Linked DNA regions of Homo sapiens. The protein of the gene in region 2 purifies or fractionates together with the protein of the main gene of each other region. This does not show direct contact. Each region holds a gene or a part of one and is shown on either strand. Other genes may lie near its edges.

What was found.
Region 1: the proteins of PWWP3A (region 2) and PPFIBP1 purify together in Homo sapiens (affinity purification with mass spectrometry; one large-scale study listed by BioGRID and IntAct). This does not show direct contact.
Region 3: the proteins of PWWP3A (region 2) and RMDN1 purify together in Homo sapiens (affinity purification with mass spectrometry; one large-scale study listed by BioGRID and IntAct). This does not show direct contact.
Region 4: the proteins of PWWP3A (region 2) and SMPD3 purify together in Homo sapiens (affinity purification with mass spectrometry; one large-scale study listed by BioGRID and IntAct). This does not show direct contact.

The regions. Positions count from the first base shown.
Region 1 is NC_000012.12:27,526,363-27,531,995, reverse strand, and holds part of PPFIBP1 (liprin-beta-1), read right to left. Parts: intron 1-5,633. UniProt on the Homo sapiens protein: May regulate the disassembly of focal adhesions. Did not bind receptor-like tyrosine phosphatases type 2A.
Region 2 is NC_000019.10:1,352,831-1,358,900, reverse strand, and holds the start of PWWP3A (PWWP domain-containing DNA repair factor 3A), read right to left. Parts: upstream 3,943-6,070; 5' UTR 3,766-3,942; intron 2,578-3,765; 5' UTR 2,509-2,577; coding exon 2,452-2,508; intron 1,893-2,451; coding exon 1,807-1,892; intron 1,483-1,806; exon of another isoform or gene 926-1,482; intron 508-925; coding exon 437-507; intron 314-436; coding exon of another isoform or gene 291-313; exon of another isoform or gene 250-290; coding exon of another isoform or gene 197-249; exon of another isoform or gene 1-196. UniProt on the Homo sapiens protein: Involved in the DNA damage response pathway by contributing to the maintenance of chromatin architecture.
Region 3 is NC_000008.11:86,476,720-86,482,352, reverse strand, and holds part of RMDN1 (regulator of microtubule dynamics protein 1), read left to right. Parts: intron 1-2,020; coding exon 2,021-2,076; intron 2,077-3,342; coding exon 3,343-3,430; intron 3,431-5,028; coding exon 5,029-5,059; intron 5,060-5,633.
Region 4 is NC_000016.10:68,360,363-68,365,995, forward strand, and holds part of SMPD3 (sphingomyelin phosphodiesterase 3), read right to left. Parts: intron 4,731-5,633; coding exon 4,655-4,730; intron 4,545-4,654; coding exon 4,389-4,544; intron 3,505-4,388; coding exon 3,415-3,504; intron 3,198-3,414; coding exon 3,134-3,197; intron 1,398-3,133; coding exon 1,241-1,397; intron 946-1,240; coding exon 844-945; 3' UTR 1-843. UniProt on the Homo sapiens protein: Catalyzes the hydrolysis of sphingomyelin to form ceramide and phosphocholine. Ceramide mediates numerous cellular functions, such as apoptosis and growth arrest, and is capable of regulating these 2 cellular events independently.

The DNA.
Region 1 (5,633 bases), on a different chromosome or scaffold from region 2:
TTAACCAAAATCACACAGCTAGTAACAACAGGGGATTCTAATCCACATCTGTCTGACTCTGGAGTCCCCGCCCTTCATCCCTATGCTATAGTTAATAAAATTTTTATAAGGACATCCTTATAAACCAAAGCTGGAAAACAGAAGAGTTCCAAGTAGTCTGGTGTGGGCAGGTGGGAATGAGGATAAGAGACAGGAGGCGGAATAAATGCCAAGTAGATGGAGTCAAGGGATTGTAGCTATAAACCTACCGAGAACCTTCTAGGAGAAAGAGCTGAATTCTTTGCCTCCCCCTTTCAGACTCCCCACTACACTTCCCTTTGGTAACAGTGCCACCATTTGTTGAAGATCTTCCATGTGCTGAATATGCCATTATTATTCCTATTAATAATTTCTGGCCGGACGTGGTGGCTCATGCCTGTAATCCCAGCACTTTGGGAGGCTGAGGCCAGCAGATCATCTGAGATCAGGAGTTTGAGACCAGCCTGGCCACGATGGTGAAACCCTGTCTCTACTAAAAATACAAAAAAAAAAAAAAATTAGCTGCTCATGCTGGTGGGGACCTGCAATCCCAGCTCCCTGGGAGGCTGAGGCTGGAGAATCGCTTGAACCCAGGAGGTGGAGGTTGCAGTGAGCCGAGATTGCAACACTGCACTCCAGCCTGGGTGACAGCACGAGACTGTCTCAAAAAAAAATAATAATAATTTCTAATTATTTCTAATCCTTCAAAAAATGCTATGGCACATATATCAGAGCTACCATTTTATAGATGAGAAAGCTGAGACCCAGAGAGGTTAAGTTACTTGCCAATATTAGACTGTAATAAATAGCAAAGCCAGGATTCAAGTTGAGGATCTGCATGGCTCCAAAGTCCTGTTTTTCTCGTACAAAATAACACGTTTTTATTTTTAAAGAAAAGATGAACTATGATTTTTAGACATCTAGACTCAGTTAAGATCACATTTGGCTGCAAGTAACTGACCCAAGTTCTGTGGTTTAACCAAGTAGAGATTTTATTTTTCTCACAGAGTCAAGAAATGGGTCCAGTAGAGCAGTTGCAGAATGCTATCAGCTTCTCAGCCTCCTTCTAACCTTCCACCCACTCATCCTTAACCCTCAAGCATCTTGTCTTTGGTCACGCGATGGCCTGCTTACTTTCTCCAGGGAAGAAGTACAAAGAGCAAAAGGCTTAACAGGCAAGCTCACAGAGGCTTCCCCTTTTAAGAGCTTTGGGGAACGGGGCATCCAGCTATTTACATCTCATCAGCCAGGACTACTGTCACTGAACCACCTCCCAGCTGCAAGGGATTCTGGGAAATCTAGCACTTAACTGGACATAGTGGTGAATTAAACAAAATGGGTTCAGTTACAGAAAAGGAGGGGGGAATGGATATCAGTTGGGCATCCAGCTGTGTCTTTCCCACATGAAGTGCAAGTCATCCTAGAGAATCAAATTCCCTTAGTAGAGAAAAACAATAAAAGAAACTTAATTCTGTGTTTAGTAGCTTTCTCAGTTATGCAAAGTCACACATTGATGGGGGTGGAGGATGGAAGGATCTGAAAGTTTGACAAAACCATCCAGGCAGCTGATCCAGAGGAAAAACACCGAGATTCAGGTGACTTCACACAAATGGCCCTGGCAAGATCACAGGTTCAACCAGTGTGTCTCCTGTGAGTCGTCACTGTTTCCCTTCCACCCTCTCACTTCCCAGAGTTAATTTCGAGAACCCACAGGTTCATTCGACTCTTCCATCATTCACAAGAAAAAGTAGATGTATTCAAATTCCAATGCAAACAAAAGAAAATTCTATACTGTGTTGTTATAAGAGGCAGCATCTTTAGAAAAAGATAACGGTTGCAAAGGCATTCTTTATGCAATAGCAGCCGCCCTGTCAAGTCACTAGATGAAAAAAGTAGACCACAGAGTTTCAACCTTGTTTTCATTTTTTCTAAATAAAGTAAATACAATAAACTTTCCTCATGAAAAACTTTTGCAATTCTGTGGTAGTAAGATAATATTTGTGTAGAGTACTATGGATGAAGAGAAGGATAACAAAGTGCCAGCAAAAGGACATCAGTGAGCTTGATCCTAGGCACGGAAATACAAGAAAACACAGGTACATTTAGTGATATGGTACAGTATTACTGCATACCATAAAAGAGTCCACACTCTTCCCAATGGGCCTACCTAGTTCTTCCCCAAAACTACCTTGCTGGCCTGAAGAATCTGGCCACTTCTTAAGAGTTCAGCTATTATTGCTAAAAGGAAAAATTAAAATTTGGCAACTTACTATTATTATTATTTTAGACAGAGTCTTGCTCTGTTGCCCAGGCTGGAGTGCAGTGGCGTGATCTCAGCTCACTGTAACCTCCGCCTCCCGGCTTCAAGCAATTCTCCTGCCTCAGCCTCCTGAGTAGCTGGGACTACAGGCATGCGCCACCACATTCGGCCAATTTTTGTATTTTTAGTAGAGACGGGGTTTTGCCATGTTGGCCAGGCTGGTCTCGAACTCCTGACCCCAAGTGATCCATCCACCTCAGCCTCCCAAAGTGCTGGGATTACAGGCATGAGCCATCGCGTCCAGCCTGGCCACTTCTTTAGGAATAGACTTGCCACTGAAAAAAGCCTTAGTACCTCTTTCACCAGGTGAAATGGAGTTTCACCTCTTAACAAAGACACACTAAGAATGAGCATACCTACTCTTCTGAACTTGTCTTTTCATGTCAAATGAATAATTTCCCTAAATTAAAGGAGAGGTGAAAATATCCAGGCCTATTGTGGAGTCCAGAGGGTGTCCATAAAATCTAGGGCCAGCCCCAAACGTGATGGTGGTACTTGATCTTCCTCCTACATGATCCATATTTAAGACATGACCCTTGGCCAGAATGACGGATACTCAGTGCAATTTGAGTTTATACAATTCCTTCAGGCATGGACATTGTTAGGTGCACCCCTGTACATAAAACCACTACATGATCTTTCTATTCTGAACTCATTACACTTGCCAACAAAAACAAGGATGTGTGTGTGGGCCAGTCAAAATGTGAGTCCCATCAAGTTCCAGGGAGAAGCATAACCAAAGAGCACTCACAAACTGTGACAACACATCCACTTGGACCACTCAGAGTCCAAACCCACCTTTCAGAAATAGACACTCTCCAGTGGGTTTAGACTGGTACGTATTTACCTCAGGTTCTCTCTCCTCCTCCCCCAAACTGCCTAAAAAGTGCGTAAACTTAAAACTCCTAGAAGAACCCATATTTCTTTTATCTAAAATCCAGTTGTCTGGTATGTTAGGTTTTTTTTTGAAGTGGAAAAAAAATGCTCACCACTTGGCTTCTGGAAACATTATCACTGAACACCAATTGAGCATCAGTAATTATTATATCTAAAATGAAGGGTGTAAAAGAAAGATTCTATGTATTTTGTAGGGTGGAATAATTCAGTTTAGTTTTAAATTTATGAGCTCCATTTAACGCAGCATCAATTTTTGCGGCAGTGACATATATGACAAAAGCTGTAGGGTTTTGTTTTGTTTTTTACTAGGAAGAAGGTTCTGACGTGCACTGCAATAAATTTGAAAAATAACTGACATAACACACTACTGATGCACTGAATTACAAGAGCCCAGAGCAGTTTTTGGACAGTTTGATAACTGATTTAATTGTGAAGTTATCCACCTTTGGTTGAACAGAAAATGCTGGCCAGAAGACATTTTGTTCCCTTTATTCACAAAGAATACCCTGCATAACCAGGCGTGGTGGCTCACTCCTATAATCCCAGCACTTTGGGAGGCTGAGGCAGACAGATCACCTGAGGTCAGGAGTTCGAGACCAGCCTGGCTAACATGGTGAAACCCCGTCTCTACTAAAAATACAAAAATTAGCCAGGCGTTGTGGTATACACCTGTAATCCTAGCTAACTGGGACCCTGAGGCATGAGAATCATTTGAACCCGGGAAGTGGAGGTTGCAGCGAGGCAAGATCACGCCACTGCACTCCAGCCCGGGCAACAGAGAGCGACTCTGTCTCAAAAACAAACAAACAAACAAAAAAGCAAAGAATACCCTGCATCAAAATGAGACAGTAACCCTAACAGCTTTGACTCGCATATTTAAATCCATCTGTTTGGCCACGGTTAAAAATAACAAAATAATCATGATAGTTATGATTATGGCTCCCTGAAAGATTTCACAACTGGCTGCTCAACTGTGATTTTTTTTTTTCTTAATTTTGGAGCTAATATGACTTTCTAAGGAAATCTCTGAAAATAAAAACGTCATTACGCAACATTTCTTGCCTATGTTTTCGCCTTGAAGCGACGTTTCTTTAATAAAGAATCAAGACACAGACCCAAACATGAATGAATATGCATTCATTAATTCACTCCTTCATCGTTTTGAAAAGGTAATTCAAACTAGGCCAGAGACACGTAATAACATCTTTGAAAAGACAGGCTGGGCACCCAGGGCTCACTCATGTAATCCTAGCACTTTGGGAGGTCAAGGTGGGTCGACTGCTTGAGCCCAGGAGTTCAAGACCAGCCTGAGCAACATGGTGAGAACCCGCCTCTACTAAAAATACAAAAATTAACCGGGCATGTTGGTGCATGACTGTAGTCCCAGGGAAGGCTGAGGTGGGAGGATCATTTGAACCTGGGAGGCAGAGGCTACAGTGAGCCGAGACTGCACCACTGCACTCCATCCAGGGCGGCAGAGCGAGACCCTGTCTCAAAAAAAAAAAGAAAAAAGAAAAGACAGAGTGCTGAATGAGGTCTTCTTTCAGTTAACAGTTTGAAAATTATGCTGGTTTGGGATATAAACGAAAAGTTAATTTTAATGTAACAAATTATCAACATAATCTAAATTTACTTATACAAATATTTTATGAATAGGAAAGGTTTTAAAAGAAGTCAGCTAGTCAGTAACTGAGGGGAAAAATGACCTTGTTCTGATTTATCTCACGGTGGAACAGGGAGCTACAAAAAGACTACATAAACAGTTAATTAACTGTCCCTCGGTGAACTTGTTCCCAAAAAAATGTCAGTGATGCCCTTGAAATTAGGCACTATTGATCTGGAACTTCAGTGTGTCCTGGATTTCAAATCAACATTTATCCATTAAGGCCAGATGACCTTAATTTTTATTTTATTTATTTATTTTTGAGATGGAGTTTTGCTCTAGTCGCCCAGGCTGGAGTGCAATAACGAGATCTCAGCTCACTGCAACCTCCGCCTCCTGGGTTCAAGCGATTCTCCTGCCTCAGCCTCCCAAGTAGCTGAGATTACAGGTGCCCACCACCACACCCGGCAATTTTTTTGTATTTTTAGTAGAAATGGGGTTTCACCATGTTAGCCAGGCTGGTCTCCAACTCCTGACCTCAGGTGATCTGCGTGCCTCAGCCTCCTAAAGTGCTTGGATTACAGGTGTGAGCCACCAAGCCTGGCCGACCTTAATTTTTAAAGTTGCTCTTGGAAATATGACAGTTGTTGGTCACAGGAATTTAACCAAAAACTGATCCTACCTTTCTCAATAACTCAAACATCTTTTAAGTATTCCGTGTTTTCCTACACCATATCTGCCTCATAAACATGGACTGAGAAAGAGAAATATTGGTTTAAATTAAGTATGTAAAAT
Region 2 (6,070 bases):
TCTGGAATTTTAAACACACAACCAACTGCTTCTCAAACCTTGGGCTGAGACCAGACTGGCCAGGCAGCGACAGTACCACAGCAAATCTTACTATAGGAAGAGGAAAGGAAAAAGGAGGACCTCCCCCCTTATGGCAGCAAAGTCCTTCCTCGTCTTGTGTACTGGAGGCCACGGGGGTACGAGATGACCTTGATGCTCACCACTGACCATTCTGGGCGTCAAGAATAGGAGTGGTTCTAGGGGCAAATTCTGGAAAGGTTTAAGAAAGCGGATCCATTTTTCCTTCTCCTTCAGCTCAGGGGATTCGCGTTCCCTTGTATGAAGAAAAACATGGTGAACAGGGTGAATTTTTACCCAGAAAGCTGAGCCTTCACATTCTCCCAAATGACCTCTTATTTTATGAAAACCTAGTGGCCACTTAAAAATACGCTCTTACCTAACGAGGAAGCAATGGCTTCAATTTGAGACTTCTCTAGGATCTCAACTTCAGTGCTTTTCACCTTAATTCTGCAGAGACAAAATCGACGTTACACACCACCAGCCAACGCCGCCAAGACATTTTCAAACATGTTTTCCTTTAGATAACAAAAGAATTATTTTCATTTTCCTCCTCAACCTTCCACTTAAACCAAAAGTCACAGCCAACTAGGAATTCATCTGCCTGAGGTTACAGGCAGCAAGAACCCTGGTGAATGGTTTTTTTTTTTTTTTCCTTTTAAGACAGAAAAGGTTGGCTGGATTTAAAAGCAAAAATGAATTCAAATTGTGACTTTTATGAAGCAAATCCTACTTTCAACTGCACAAATCACTCCTTTGTTAGATTTTCAGAGTAGATGGTAATGTCACTAAAAGCTGTTTACAGCCCAGCAGGTGTGTTTTGGTTTAAAAGGATGTGCTTTCCTTTTAAACTCGAGTATTCAATTACCTTCCCAGCCGCAGGGAAAGTGTGAGCTAGGGACCAAGCGAGCTTCAGAGGCAGCTCTGAAGATGCAGGCAGGAGGGAGTGGGGCAGGGGGAGCTCCACAAGGAAGAGCAACAGGGGAGCCAATGCCTTGGACTACGCGGGATCAGTCTCCTTGCTCTCTTCAGAACTGGGAATTCTCACGACAGATGCACCCTCGCCAATCACGCAGGACTGACCGGGGCGTCGGAATCGCCGTCATTCTAGATGATCTACACCTTCCCGGTGCCAGACGCGCCCTCGCCACAATCACGCAGGACTGACTGGGGCGTCGGAATTGCTGTCATTCTAGACAATCTACACCTTTCCCAGTGCCAGACACTCACGGAGCAGAACAATGTGCCGCCTGGTCATCAGTTATTTGCCTTTTGAACGTTAAACGCTGGTTTAGAGTGACAGGCTCAAAAACCAAATATTTCAAAATTGATGGGCCTGTCACAGACGTTTCTGAAAAAAGACACACAGATCTCTGGGAAGGAAACATCCCTATTTTCCTGGCATGGCACTGATTAAGAAACAGTCAAAAAAAAAAAAAAAAAAGGAAATATCCCTATTTTAACCACAAATAGGGTCTACCCTGAGTATAATTTACATGTATTCAGTGTTTGTACCAATCTCTCCATAGATCTCACAGAATGCCTCGTTTGGATCTTCAGCTTCCAAACTGACATAAAATCAAACTAGTTGCTTTCTCATGAGGTTATTATGAGCATTAATGAATTACACAAATGGTGAATAAGCCCATTAAGAGTGGGCTGGGCTTCAACTGTTTTGGGGGAGTAGGGGATTGAAGTATCAGAAATCTACACGGGAAAAAACAGTATTAAAACAACACAACACTTAACTTTTCCTCTAGAGAGAGGATTTGCACAGCTAGAAAATATTCCTTTCTTCTCTTATTTTTTGTTGAAGTCGCGGTTCGGGCCAAAACCTACATTTAAAACAAAAGAAAATCCTTGTTATTACAACAGCTGACAGTGAGAAACAGTGGCAAACTTTAGCACAAATGCAGCAGGTAATCCTGAAGGCCTATAACCATGGGATTTCAGATATTTGGTCCAATCCCCATTGTTTCACAGATGGGGAAACTGAGGCATGAGAGGCCAGTGGCAGACAAAGACAAGGACCTGGGCTTTTGCATTGCAGCTGAGCACTGTCTACTGAATTGCTGGAAAGCATTCCCTGAACACGACCATAATTTACTATCACAGGGCTGCTTGCCAGATCTTTCCTTGAGTTACAGCCTTACATGCCTTTTTACAGCTGATTCTTTTTTTTTTTTTAGTGTGAAAAAAAAAAGACATTTCTGGAAGTGTAACCTTGGAAGCACTAGACCAAAACCCCATTAAATGGGGAACGAGAATCAGTGCCAACCGTGTTCTGGCTCAATTATTTCACTGAAGCAAATCCTAGGTATCTCCTGATCAAGATTTTACTTGTCACCCGAAAGTCATTTCTAAGTCCTGAAGTTACAGAATAATGGCTGTCACCTTCGCAGGCCATAATCGCTTTTCCCATCGGCAGAGGACATACTTGGCATCCGCCATCATTTACACTCATGTGGCAAGTGGCAATGATTTGGCACAACGTACTCCCAGGTCTCACGCCAATGTGTCCTGGAACGAAATTTGCACGGTGGTTTATACAACTGTTTGCTGGCGATGTTAACGCAGACACAGCCCTCAGGGGCAAAGGTTAGCTCGACTTAGCCTCAAGTAGATGGTTTAATTCCACAATCTTGCATTGAGATGCTCAATGCCAAAAAGCAGACTGACAAACAGAAACGACGGGGCTCGGTATCCAGGGAGGCGCCTGCATTTTTTCATAAATAAAATACAGCACAGTCCCTCCCAAAGGTTCTATCTAGATCAGTTTTAAAAGGCTCCTGAATAAATCATCTCCGTGCGGAAGACCTGCCTCCGACCTCGGCAGGAGAGGCATTTTACACAATCAAAGCTCACAACCCTCCCCAATTTGGGGAGTTAACAGTTGACCACAGCACACACACAAAAATAAGAGCGGAAAAACGACTGCTCTTTTGGCTGCCATGTCCCTGAAAGAACGGGGACAGCTGCAGACCGTTCACAGCATCAATGGGAAGGACTGGCTTGGCTGTTGACAGAAATGAAAAGGAGGTTTGGGGGTGGGGGTGGAATTTAGCAACAACGGAGGGGGGCGTCCCCGCAGCAGGGAAGAGGAGGTTCCCAGCAGAGGTAGGGGTGGCGTTTCCAGCAAGAGAGGGGATCACAGCAGCAGCAGAAGTAGGGGTCCAGGCAGCAGGGACAAGATTTCATGGCGGAGGAAGGGTTGCGGCTTGCAGGAACGGGGGATTCAGGCAACAGAGAAGGGGGTCACAGCAGAAGCGGGGGGGCTCAGGGAGCAAGAACGAGGGCTCACGGAGGAGGTGGAGCGGAGGGTCCAGGTGGCAGGGATGGGGGATTTCACGGTTGGGGGTGGGGAATCCAGGGAAGCAGATGGGGGTCCAGGCAAGAGATGGGGTTCACGGCAGACGTGAGGGGGATCCAGGGAAGGAGATAGGGGTCCAGGCAGCAAGGATGGGGGAGCGGGTCCAAGCAAGAGATGGGGTCCGGGCGGCAGGGACGGGAAAAGGAGTCCAGGCAAAGTGAGGGGCCCACGGCGCCAGGGGCGGAAAAGGGGGTCCGGGCAGAGTGGGGGACCCACGGCGGTAGGGACCGGGCGCTCCCGGAGGAGTCTCTAGGCCGGGGCCCCCCCTCCCCCCAGGCCCGGCCTCCTCGCCTCAGCCCCGCCCGGCGGAACCGAGGGGACGCATCCCGCGGGCTCACCGGGCCCCCGGCTTTCCCCAGCGCGGCGCCCCAAGCCCGGGCAAGGAGGCCGCAGCGGCCGCAACAGCGGAGGACCCGCCCGCCAACCGCTGCCGTCCGCGCCGCCCGCGCTCACCGCCTCCGCCACCGCCGCCGCCGCCGCCGCCGCCGCTCCCCGCGGGGCCGGGGGCGGGGCTTGCCTCGCGGCGGCGCCAAGCTCCGCCCCCTTCCGCCCGCTGCCCAATGGGACGCGCGCGCTCCCAAGGAGCGCCGGCCTCGCCCTCTCCGGCGTCCACGGCCGCGCGCCGGCCCCGCCCCTTCCGCCGCGCGTCTACCCCTTTTTCCCGGGAGTGCTGCCTGAGGAGACCGGTTGGCGGGGCATGTGTGGCCGCTCCCGGGCGCCGCCCTCCCGCGCTCCCGGCCCTTTGTCCTGCAGTCAGACCCCGGACACCGCCCTCGCGGGTCTCGGTGGGAAAACAGGCTCCCCCGCCCGCGGCGATCCCTGAGAGAACCTTCCAGAACTTTCGAGAATCTTCCAGGTCCTACGGCACCTCCCAGCCCGGGAGCTGCGCGCCACGGACCCAATTCCAGCAGATCCCAACCGATCCCAAAGCCAGGCATCCCCGCAAAGGCGTCATAAGCTTCTGAACTAGAGCAGGACCCACCTTGGGAGGGTCCCAAGACCCCGGGGGGCACCGGAAACAGCCGCGGGTGGCGGGAGCCCCGGAGCGGTCGCTCCATCAGTGTCAGGCCTTTCCCTGAGCGGTTTTTGATTTTTTTTCAGACGGAGTCTCGCTCTGTCACCCAGGCTGGAGTGCAGTGGCGCGAGCTCAGCTCACTGCAGCCTCCTCCTGCTGGGATTACAGGTGCGCGCCACCCCACCCGGCTAATTTTTGTATTTTTAGTAGAGAATACTAAATGTTGATCAGGCTGCTCTCAAGCTCCTGACCTCAGGTGATCGGCCTGCCTCGGCCTCCCAAAGTATTGGGATTACAGGCCTGAGCCACCTCGCCAGCCCCCACAGTTCTTTAAAAGCAAAGGAGGCCGAATTGGCAGATCCTTTAAGCCCAAGGATTGGAGACCAGCCTGGGCAACATGGCGAGACCCCATCTCTATAAAAAAGATACAGGCTCACTCCTGTAATCCCAGCAGGAGGCCGAGGCGGGCAGATCACATGAGGTCAGGAGATCGAGACCAGCATTGCCAACATGGTGAAACCCCGTCTTTACTACAAATAGAAAAATTAGCCGGGCGTGGTGGCGATGCCTGTAATCCCAACTATTCAGGAGGCTGAGGCAGGAGAATCGCTTGAACCCGGGAGGCGGAACTTGCAGTAAGGGGAGATCGCGCCACTGCACTCCAGCCTGGGCAACAGAGTGGGACTTCGTCTCAAAAAAGGAAAAAATTAAAAGACTTACAGCAGCATTCGTCACGCACTGGCCCCGACTCTTCAAGGGGAAGGGGCGACAGCAAAGCCGGCTCTAACTTCTTTTTCCTTCTCACATTTGCGGGAATAGAAGGTTTGTGTCTTCGGTCGATCCCAGCAACCTCAGCGACTGATTTTTTTTCCTTTATCAAGTTGAGAATGTTCACCTTTCACTTGTTTTTTATTTTTATTTACATTTTTGAGTCGAAGTTTGGCTCTGTGGCCCAGGCTGGAGTGCAGCGGCCCAGTCATAGCTCACTGCAGCCTCAACCTCCCAGGCTCAAATGATCCTTCCACCTTAGCCTCCGGAGTAGCTGGGACCACAGTGCGCACCACCATGGCTGGCTAAGATTTTTATTTTTTGTAGAGAGAGGGTCTTGCTATGCTGGCCAGGCTGGTTTCGACCTTTTGGGCTCAAGTGATCCTCCCACCTCGGCTCCCCAAAGTGCTGGGATCACAGGTAGGATCCACCTTGCTCAGCCGTCTCAGTTTGTCTATAAAATGGGGGTGGTGGTCTGTGGGTGGTTGGCAAGAACTATGTCTCTGATATCCTCTCACGTTAAATCTGAGCTGGCGGTGGCTCAGGCCTGTAATCCCAGCACTTTGGGAGGTCAAGGCAGACATATCGCCTGAGGTCAGGAGTTCGAGACCAGCCTGGCCAATATAGAGAAACCCCCATCGCTACTAAAAATACAAAAATTGGCTGAGCGTGGTAGTGTGCACCTGTAATCCCAGCTATTTGGGAGGCTGAGGCAAGAAAATCTCTTGAACCCAGGAGGCGGAGGTTGCAGTGAGCTGAGATCGCGTCAGTGTACTCCAATGTGGGTGACAGAGCAAGACTGACTCTGTCTCAAAAAGAAAAAAGAAAAAATCCTGGGCTGGCGTGTGACCTGCTTCAGC
Region 3 (5,633 bases), on a different chromosome or scaffold from region 2:
TCGGCTTACTGCAGCCTCTGCTTCCAGGGTTCAAGTGATTCTCCTGCCTCAGCCTCCCAAGTAGCTGGGATTACAGGCGCCCACTGCCACACCTGGCTAATTTTTATATTTTTAGTAGAGACAGCGTTTCACCATGTTGGCCAGGCTGGTCTCAAACTCCTGACCTCAAGTGATCTGCCCACCTCAGCCTCCCAAAATGCTGAGATTACAGGCATAAGCCACCGTGCCTGGCCTACAGAGCCTCCTTTCAAGATCGAGGTCCAGAGGAGCAGCTGCGTGCCGCGTGAGCTTTAGCAGGAGGACCAGTGATTAGCATTTACGATGCAAAGACAGAACAACTTCGTATAGGACTGTACTCCTGGACACCATTTCCACATGTGGATTTCTGCTTGCAGCAAGATGACAAGCAAATACTAGAGAATCTTTCCACTTCGTGTCTGGCCGAGCCACCCCACTTTGTTGAACATATTAGATCTACCTTGATGTTTTTAAAAAAAAATACTGCTCCAACTAACACACTGTTTCCTGGAAATAAAGCCCTACTCTACAAAAAAAATGAAGATGGCTTGTGGGAAAAGATCTCTTCTCCAGGAAGCTAAAAAAATAGGAATTACCAAAGAAAGCAGAACCTTCTTGGCCTGACAGAGACCATTGGTGGGGCCAGCAAGAATCCAAATTTGGAACCTACATCCATTGGGTCTTAGGTCTTCTCCTTCCTTCCTCAGTGTTTTTCAAATGACTTTCAAAATAAAACCTTATTTTGGCAAAGGCAAAAAAAAAAAAAAAAAAAAAGGAAAATTAATTAAACCCTGATCCCCCCAGGCATCCATTGTGATGAATTAACTTCCTTCCTATGCATCTAGAATGGGACTACAGTATTTCTGTATCATTCTTAGGAAATAGAAAAAAATAGTTACTTACACAATTTTTTTGTAGGGCTTAATTTTTAGTGGAACTCCCAATTGAGAAAGGTTGCTTAGAGCATAAGTTGCATATAAACATGTTAAGATACTTATTTATTTTTTACCACAACCTTATGAGTTAAGTACATGACTTTTCCATAAAAGAGAAAAAACTCAGTTGTGGTAAGAATATAGATCTTGCAACCAGTTCAAGGTCATTAAGCTGTGACTTGAATCCTGGCAGTCTGGTTTCAGAGACCATGCTCTTAACCATTACAAATATTTGAAAATGTGTACCTCACACATTACTAAACTGAAAGCAAAAGTGTGGGTTTATAGAAAAGCATAAACTAGGAAATCTTAATTTTTTCAAAAAGAGTCCTTTTAATATGAACATTAATCTGTAAGATTTCTTTAGTTGTTTTCAACAAAATAATGGATAAAAGGAGGAACAGTTTCTTTATTCTGTAGTTTATATTCACATAGTAAATATAAATTAGGGAGATTCAACATATTTTACATTGCACATAATTATTCTATTAATATTCTATAAACTGTTTATTTTTCCTTTGGTAAGTACAGATGGGGAAGTTGAACAAAATCTGCATACAAGAAGACTTTCTAAAAATAGAAAAGACTTTCTAAAATCTGCATAGAAGAGACTTTCTAAAATTACATTTTTTCTAAAAAACTAAAATGCACTTTTCTTCTTTAGGAAAGAATGACTTTTATTCAGTATTCATCTACAGTTTGCCAAGAAAGTACTTCCTTATCCATTTTTCCTTTAATTTGGAAGAAACATTAAGAGCTATAGATTAATTTGCAAGATTAATTTGCAAAATTAATCCATTTATGTATTTCATGTTTTTTCTCATCTTGATAGACACTTACTATAAATGTCTGAACCATACAAAATAGTAACATTAGTATAAGTCATTAATAGTGTTTTGAAATGAATTTAATCAAAGAATCAGGAGGAAGAAAGTTGATATTATAATGGGAGAACTGAAACACACAGTTGCATTTTTTAAAAAATCATGGCTTCTTCAGCAAACACAGTAAAGCACTTATTGGTGTTTAGAAAACAAATATGATTTATTTTTCTCATTTCTTGTTAGAAAGCAATTGAACTGAACCCTAAAGATGCTACTTCAATTCACCTTATGGGTATTTGGTAAGAAAATTTCTTTAAATATTTCAGTAGTATTTAGTGTGATATTTTGTAGTATGTATAAATATCTTCTTTTGCATATATAAAAGATATTAAATATTTTAAAATATTATCTGACAGAGCTTAGAGTGCTAAATCCATTAACTAGCCCTTGTATATATATTGTTAGAACATACTAAATTTGATTATGACCATGTTAAACATTGTTATTCAGGTCATTTAGAAACATGTACAGACTGAAAAGACTATTCTTATTTACCATGCTAAATGAAATTAGATTAATGTAACTATAGTAAAACAGTAGAATGCCCCAAGAGGGTCTTTGTATCTTCAAAGTGTGTCAGATACAGTCTTGATTAATCTGAGGAACCATATAATCTGATTTTCAGTATCTTTCTATTTTTATGTGATCTTATGTCCACTGTAGATTATTATTTTGCTGGTATGAGGCTTTATCAAAGTGTTACGTACTTGATGGTTTAAGAGTCTGTTTTGAGATAGATGGGACACTCTTTTGAGTATAGCCTGCAGAGCTGAATATTTACTGCCATCTAAGAAGGGTACCAGTGTAAACTGTCCTGTATCAAACTCTTTTAAAAGAGAAATATATTCTTCAGGATAAAGGACATATTAAGCTAACACTCATTCACTGAGGATTAATGATAATTGAGGGGCAGTCACTAAGTCAGATGCTAGTAAGCAAACCCAAATGAAATAGCAATTTCTGCCTTAAGGACTTCAGACCCTAGTCAAAGATGCAACACTTTCTTTCCTACTTATTTCTGAAAGTTGTAAAGATCTTTGGAGGTTAATCATTTGCTTTGCTGCTTTAAAAATAGATTTAAGTTGTTGGTTGCTGTTATTTATACATTTGATGTTTAGCTTTGTCATTTTTCTTGTGTAAGGTTTAACTTCTCTGAGTTTTTCTTATAAGAAAAATAGGGGAAATTATCCTATCTCATATATAATTGTTACAAGGAATAAATGAGAGAATCAACCCACTACCTGGCACAATGCACTCAGTGGTAGATGTATATTATATTACTGTTATTAGTATGACTGCTTACTATTTATATTTAATCACAAAATACACCCCCCAGCTAAAGGATCACTATGTCAATCTCTGGATTACCTAGTAGATATCATGTAAAGCACAAGTTGTTTAAACATACAGTAGAAGATTCCTTTTATAGTATTAAGATGCTTAGTTAACTTTAAGAGAAAAGAAGGTACAATTTGAATGTATAAAATTGTTTTATTTCCCTGTAGGTGCTATACATTTGCCGAAATGCCTTGGTATCAAAGAAGAATTGCTAAAATGCTGTTTGCAACTCCTCCTAGTTCCACCTATGAGAAGGTAGTATGATGTCCTTTGTTAAGTTAGTACGGATTTCTTAACCACAGCGCCATTCTACCATGTGTTCACACATGTGGAGCTCTGATTCAGTGAGGGACTTGAGCAATTTCTAATGATCCAATTCAACTGTGTTATCACAAGGCTTAACACTTATTATCCTTGACTGGTGAGTGGTTTTCTTTTTCCCCGTTAGGTGAGTGGCTGGTAATTCTGGAATACTGTCATCTAAAATGGCTCGTGGCTAAAATCTACCTTCATTTTCTGTTTGAAATCTAAACTATATTGAAGTCATAAAATAGAACAAGAAATACAGCATCTGTTACCCAGCATGTTTTAGCTGTATTACACACAATAACAGAAAAGTAAAGCAGATGCTTAAGTTGATAAAAGAAGAACACTCATTATAACTTCTATTTTAAAAAGCATATGAAAGGTTCATATTCTCTCATATTTTCAAGGCCTTTTGCTTTTCTTGTTAAAAATAAGATTTGAGAGGAATTTCTGGTTAAACTTTGGGTTTACTCATCACAAGCTTTTCAGAGTAAGAAAACAGGCAATCGAAAAAGCTGTACTTGTATTATTTACATTATAACAAGGAGCTTTTTTTTCTTTCTGGGAAGCTATAGTGTAGAAATTGATGTAAAAAATACTTAGTTGTATTCTTTACACACAGTTGAGAAATATTATTAAAATAATGCACCAATATTTTATAATGGTATTATTAAAATAATGCCCATTTGCTGGACACGGTGGCTCATGCCTGTAATGCCAGCATTTTGGAAGGCCAAGGTTGGTGGATCAGTTGAGCCTGGGAGTTTGAGACCAGCCTGGGCAACGTGGCAAAACCTCTGCAAAAAAAATACAAAAATTAGCCAGGTGTGGTGGCCTGTGCCTGTAGTCCCAGTCACTCAGCTAAGCTGAGGGAGAAGGATCACTTGAGCCTGGGAGGTCAAGGCTGCAATAAACAGTGATTGCGCTACAGCATTCCAGCCTGGGCAACAGAGTGAGACCTGGTTCTTTTTTTTTTTTTTTAAGACAGGTCATTTTAAGGACAAAAAATATAGTCAGCTCTACTTTATCAAATTAGTTATGTTTCTAGAAATCAAATGTCATTAGAGAATGCATTACAAAAACAGTAGCTTAAGTAGGACAAAAAGAGTTTCAGACTTAACATTGTATGTAGGAATTTCAATAATAATGGACTCTTAAAAATTCACTAGTACAACGAATAAATTCAGCTTTTGATTATATTTTGTTTTTACTAAAAATCACTAGTTATGATTTAAGAGAACTGTCAAAATAGCTGAGTTACACGTGATAATGTTCTTTCCTTTCTGCACATGATGTTAGTTTGGTACAAGTTCTAAACAGCAACCAAGTTATTACCAGAAGTAGTCCATATATTGTAATCTTGATGATTGAAGTGTTACGTTCACTTTGGGTGTTAACTCTCACTGTTGAAGAAGTGACCATTATTTTAAGATGATTTACTTCCTGACTTAAATATAATATAGCAGTAGATCTTTGAGACAATGCTTTTTTAATATTGTCTTCTTTAATCTTTTTTATTATGTTTGGGCTCTTTGTGTTTTTGACAGGCCTTAGGCTACTTTCACAGGGCAGAACAAGGTAAGGTATTTTTGATTACACATATTAATATAGTTAAAATTGTATGAATGCTGAATATATACTATAATAGCAATGTCTAAAGCAGTTGTTTATTCTGTTATACTTATTTTTGTGCTAGATACTGTAAAACAATTTTTAAAGTCTTTATTCAGTAAAGATCACCTGAATGAGAAATAGGCTGCTATTGAACTTAGAGCTGCAGTTCTGGAATGTCTATCATTTGATGTAATTCTGCTTCCTTTGTGAGAGCAGTCTCTGACATGGTAATTGTCTTATTCAAGACTGCACATATTGGCCAGATGTGGTGGCTAACACTTGTAATCCCAGCACTTTGGAAGGCCAAGGCAGAAGGATCACTTGAACCCAGGAGTTTGAGACCAGCCTGGGCAACATAGCGAGACCTCATCTCTACCAAAAAATAAAAATAAAAATTAGCCAGGTGTGGTAGCACACACCTGTAGTCCCAGCTACTCAGGAGGCTGAGGCAGGAAGGTCACTTGAGCCCAGGAGTTCCAGGCTACAATGAGCTGTGATTGCACCACTGCACTACAGCCTGGGCCACAGAGTGAGACTT
Region 4 (5,633 bases), on a different chromosome or scaffold from region 2:
ATACTCTCTTCTCGGATCCCCGTTTATGGCTCCACTGCCCAGATGGGAGGCTCCCGGAGGAGGCCCAGGGTGCCAGAGCCTGCCAGACTCTGTTGTGCCTGAGCTGGGGAAGGGACCCTGTCTCGGGAAGAGCAAAGTTCTATGAGTGACTTACAGACCCTGTGAAGTGAGGGTTGGTTTTGTGATTAACCTTTTTCTGTTTTTCTTTTTAAAATGTAATTGCCCTTGAATGCGAGACCCTGGGAAGAGCCCTGGGCTGGCTGGTAGAGATGCAGCCCTCGGACCCTGCAGGAGCCGGCCCACACTGGAGGCGGGAGAGCTGGTGGCCGTGCCCAGGAAGTGCTTCTTTGGCTGGTTCTGATTGTGTTTGGAGTTTGGCCTTGGGTGAGGCCCGAGCAAGGGGTCTGTGGCTACAGCGTGGCACGTGGCATGCGGGCAGCGTGCATGCGAGGGTGCAGGCATGCGAGACGACATTGGCAGCAGACAAAAATAAAGAACCCTGGACGAAGCTTAAGAGGAGATACAGAGAGTACACGAACCCGGTCCTCATACTAACCCACGGGTTACAAACTCGGTTGTGCTGTAGATTTGTAGAAAATCGTGTTGTGAAAGAATGGCACTGGTTAGGCAGCTGGAGGCTCCTGGGGCGGGCCTGACTCCTCTGTCCACAGTGAGGCCCAGAGGCGCAGAGCAGCGCAGCTTCCAGGTTCCCGGGCACTGACTGTGGCTCCCTCCCTGTCCCTGCCCTCCTCCCCCAAGCACCGGGCACTCGATGGAGGGGACATGGCCCAGGGATGGGCTGCAGCTGCAAGGGCTGGCAGAGGCCCCGCTGCTCCGGACGGTCTATGCCTCCTCCTCCCCCGAAGACACCATCAGTCGCATGGCTACTGGCAGGTGGTCCGTCAGGCCGGACAGCTGGGTGATAAAACTGAATTCTTCCACCTCCTGGGGTGAGTGGGAGAGGGGAGAAACAGCCTGGTCAGATTCCAAGGGCATCTTGCAGGGAGCGGCCTGGGGATCCCCAAAGTGAGGCCCCGGGGCTGGGGTGGGCTGGGACCTTCCTGCAGTCAGAGGGATGGGGCCTGGAGGACCTGGGGCCCTAAGGGTCTGAGGGAGTGATGGGTATCATTGTAAGAGTGGCCTGGGGCGTGGGGTTTCAGGGAGCGGCTGTCGAGAGCTGCAGGGCCCGGGCCCTGCTCTCTCTTTGCATGGCCCTGGCTGCTGGGCCCTCCTGACTCACGGCCTTCCAGTCTGGGCACAGCCCCTCCTCTGCATGCAGCATGTAGTCGATGCGCCGGCCGTTGCCCTTCAGCAGCTCCTTCCGCCCCTTCTGGCCCGAGCTCTTGCTGGTGGGAAACGCCAGGTACTCCCTGCGGCCCTCCTCACTCTCCAGGACCCTGTCCACACATGCAGGAGGCAGGTGGGCCCCCATGCCCGCCCCTGTGGGCCTGGCAGGGGCTGTGTGTGGAGCCATGGTCTCCTCCCAGTGTGGGAGCGGGTGGGTGGGACCAAAGCGCTGGGTTTAAGATCTCTCCCCTGCGGGTCCAAAAAGGGCCTCAGCTGGGGGTAGGCCGAGTTGCCTGTGGGTTCCTGGCTGAATCTGGGCTCCGGAGCCCGTCGAAGTGTTCTGTCCGCCCCAGCCTGGCCAGCACTCACTTTCCCTTTCTGAACTCGGACAGAACTGATCCCACCCGTTCCCCAGAATGGGCTTCTGCCCTGAGCCAACAGGGGCCTGTTTTGAGGAGCTTGGTCTTTGCCATGAGTCTCGGGGACCCTTGTGACTGTTCCCAGGTTGACAGGAGCTGAGGGAGCCAGGAGAGCACCTCTGAGGAGTCTCAAATGGGGCTGTCCCTACGTGGCTGTGTGACTCTGCTTATGTTACCAAGCCTCCAAGCCTCTGTTTCCTCCTCTGAAACAAGAATGGTTGCTGTGGGCCCCAAGACGCTTCAGGGAACAGGCTGTCATCCCGCTTCTGAGTGAGGAAACCCATGATGGTGCTAGGGGATCCACAGGGAGGGCAGGGCGCTGGAGCAGGGGGATGTGACATCTGGAATCCCTTTCTGGCACTGTTGCCCTGAGACAAGCAGTATGCCCGTCTGCTTCCTGCCAGCCTGTCCCCTGGGGCCTCAGCACCACTGGGCCAGAGGCTTAGGACCCCCTCCTGGGAGCCCCCATTGCAGAGGGCAGGCTGGGGCCAGGGCCTGGGATGGCAAGTGCAGTGGTGAGAGACCCTGCAAAGGCCGCCAGGTCTGTGAGTGCCTGGACGGATGCAAAAGGGGCACCCGGCGAGGCAGGGCCTGCAAACATGGGCTTCCACAAGGTTTTCATCAGCCTTAAGATAAATACACTAATGACATTCAGGACATTGTTACAGCTCAGAAATGGAATCCATCACTGTCCTTTGCCCTTGATAATTAATTCCAGCATCAATGATCTGAGAGCTACTGGTAGTCATTTTTAAATCATCATCTCATAAAAAGAATTTTCTCAGCATAGGATGATGTTTCAAATTTAGTCTATAATCTAATTAATTGGCTCAAATTAGCTGCAAGGAACCATCGCTGTGACTGCAGTCTCGGGCTGTGAATTATAAATTGGTTCTGCTGTTGGCCTCTCAGATGTGTTCTTTATGGACATCTTACTGGGCTCAAGAATGAATTTTGGCTGGGATGGAACTGTCTCTACTTTGAAAATGGTCGGCTGTGTTATTGCAGCTGGTGTCTGTATTTGCCTGATTGGTGCTGCAAGCTGCCAGGCTGCCTTCAGCAGGCGCCGTACCCAGCAGCTCTTTCATGGGGGTCGACCTGTGGCCTGGCCCGGGGGAAATTCCAGGCCCTTTCCTGTACCCAGCAGGCAGGGGCTCGGGGCAGGGCTAGCTCCTGAAAACAGGTTTGGGAAATACCCCTAGAGATTTAGCAAGGCCAGTACCCCTGGGCGTGAGGGCGTGAGGTCTACCTGCCTGGCCCAGCTCCCAGCTCTCAAAAGCTCTCAAAGGTGAGATGAGGGACAGGTTTCTGCCAAATAAAAGCCCTCATGAGCCCGAGCTGAGCTCTCCCATGTGGGTCCTGCCCAGTCCCTGTCTCCACCTTAGTCAGGGTGTGCCTCGTCCCTGGCCTGGGAGCGCAGTGCTTACTTCTGCAGGTTGTCGGGGGTGCACACATCCTCATCGTACAGGCCGTTCGTGTCCAGCAGAGTACCTGGGGGGGACGAGGGGGTGACAGTGGTCGCTGCAGGCAGGGCCCAGGCAGCCTCTAGGGGGTGGCCTCTGTGGGTGGACACGGGCTTCTGCTAGCCAGGGGCAGCTGAATGGGGCCCTTCCCCAGCAGTGGGGTCTTGTGGGGTAGGTCCTGGTGATCTTTGAGGGAAGTCTGTGGGGAGCCCAGCTCCCATCCTCCTCCCCCAGCCCCAGCTCACCGATGGCCCACGGCTTCTCCTCACCAGGCCCCAGGCGGCAGGGGTCCCTGTAGTGGGTGAACAGGGAGTGTTGCTGCTCCAGCTTGTCGTCTGTGCGGGGAGGGAGGAAACGCTGAGGCACCAGGGGGCTTTGCTGTCCCACACGGCCTGTGCCCCTGCTTCCCATCAGTTACTCCCCATGTGCTGCCAGGCCCCCATCCCTTAGGCCACTGCCCCTGGGTGGGATCTCAGTCCCATTCAGGTGCCCCGTGCTTCATTTGTCGCTGCTTTTCTGTGTCCTTGAGAACACCTCCCCCAGCACACGCCCTGATCTTCAGCATTCCCTCTGAGGACAGTGACAGTGACCACGGTCCTCGGACAGAGGAAGGAAGGTCCCCACAAGGTCCATGTGGTCATCGGATCCACAGATCAGTTATTTACAGCAAGTGTTTGCTGTTTCACTGATGACGAGCTTGTAGTCTTTCACCCTAATGGTTTAAGGTGCAATTCCCAGGGTTCAGATCCCAGTGCAATCACTGCCTGGCTATGTGACCTTGGGCTGGTTCTCCAGCCTCTCTGAGTCTCAGCTTCCTCCACCACACCACGTGGAGACATGCAATGCTTCCCTCTCAGGGTTGTTAAGACACTTAAGTGAAACAGCGATAGAATGGCAGCTGGCTCGAAGCAAGAGCGCGGCGCCCCGTTGATGGGTGTTACTAGTGGACTCGTCCTTTGTCTGCTTCAGAGGCCCCCAGCCTTCCTTGTCAGAGGTTCGTTTTTAGGGCATCTCTGTCTCCAGCTTTCTAGGCAGAGCGTGGGCTCTTCCTGTTCTAGGATTTCTAGGGGGCAGAGAAATCAGTCTTGCTAAATACCCCGCCCACATGCTCTCGAGGAGCAGGAATTCTTTGAGCTGCCTAACGAAGTCTGTCTAGCTGTGACTGAGCCCACAGCCTCCCCAGAGCTGGAGACCTGAGTGGGGAGGAGCCCGGCCTCACCAGAGGAGCAGTTATCAAAGTTGAAATCTCCACAGACGACGTCAAATGCCACCAGCTCCTCGGGGTTGGCTGCGCTGGACGAGGAGGTAGATTTTCGGAAATCAGCCAGCCAGTCCTGAAGCAGGTCCAGCTGCCCACACCGGATGGCGCTGTCCTCTGCAGGGCAGAAGTACAGAGACTGGATGATGAAGTTCGCCCCAGACCCCAGCTAGGCCCCAGGCACTGATCCCATGCCTAGAAAAAACACAGGTGGGCGGCAACCCTACCTTGCGGGGCATGCAGGTGTGTGCAGGCGATGTACCCGACGATTCTTTGGTCCTGAGGTGTGCTTCCCACCTGCACCTGGGGGAGGAGGGGGTCAGTGCTGCCACCTGCCAGTCACTGTGGCCCTGAGAGCACAGGACACTGGCAGTGCCCACCCACCCATGAGGTCAGACCCTCACAAGCCTGGCTCCTGGCTGGATTCTGGGGTCCGAGTAGGGACAGGATGTGTCCTGCTTCTAGGGACTTACGGATCTGGGCCAGAGGCGGGTGCTGAAAGAAACTATTGGCCTGTGGCGTGGGGAGTGCTGGCGGCCATCTGTGCAAAGCATGGGGGAAGTGCCGAACCGCAGCAAGGCTCCCCGGAGGCCCAGGCCCTGCCATCTCCCAGTGACCAGCGTGGCCACGGCTCTCAGTTCCTTGTCCAGTCCTGTCTGTGGCTCTTTCCTCCCTCCCTCAGTTACACCCTAGACCTGGTCACACCCTGGTGCTTTCTCCCCCTGAAATCTCAGGGGGTTGCCCCTGTGCCATGGCGTGGCCTCAGAGCCCACCCCACACAGCAAGAGGCCCAGACCCTGCCCCTCCTGGCCTCGTCGCCTTCTGGCTGCATGGTGAGTCATCTGCTTTATAGGCCGTGGTCCCGTTGTCACCCGTCTTGGATGAGAGCTCCCTGACCTGTGTCCTAGGCTGGCCCCTGCACACCCCTGGCTCCATCCTGAGCCCACTGTGGCAGCATCCTCTTCAGGTCTCCCCTCTGCCCCGACCTCCTGCTTACCTCCTTTACCCAAGACGGAGCAGGTGACCCTGGCAGGATCCCAAAGGCTGGCTTAATACAAATTAGCATCTCCACTGTACCCTGCAGGCAATTCATAACTGCCCTACCCCAGGTGGGGGCAAGATGGAGCCCTTGTCAGTGCTCAGCCCAGGAGAGGTGAGGGATGGCCACAGAGATGCCCTGCACAGAGAGGCCGCTTACCAGCTCCT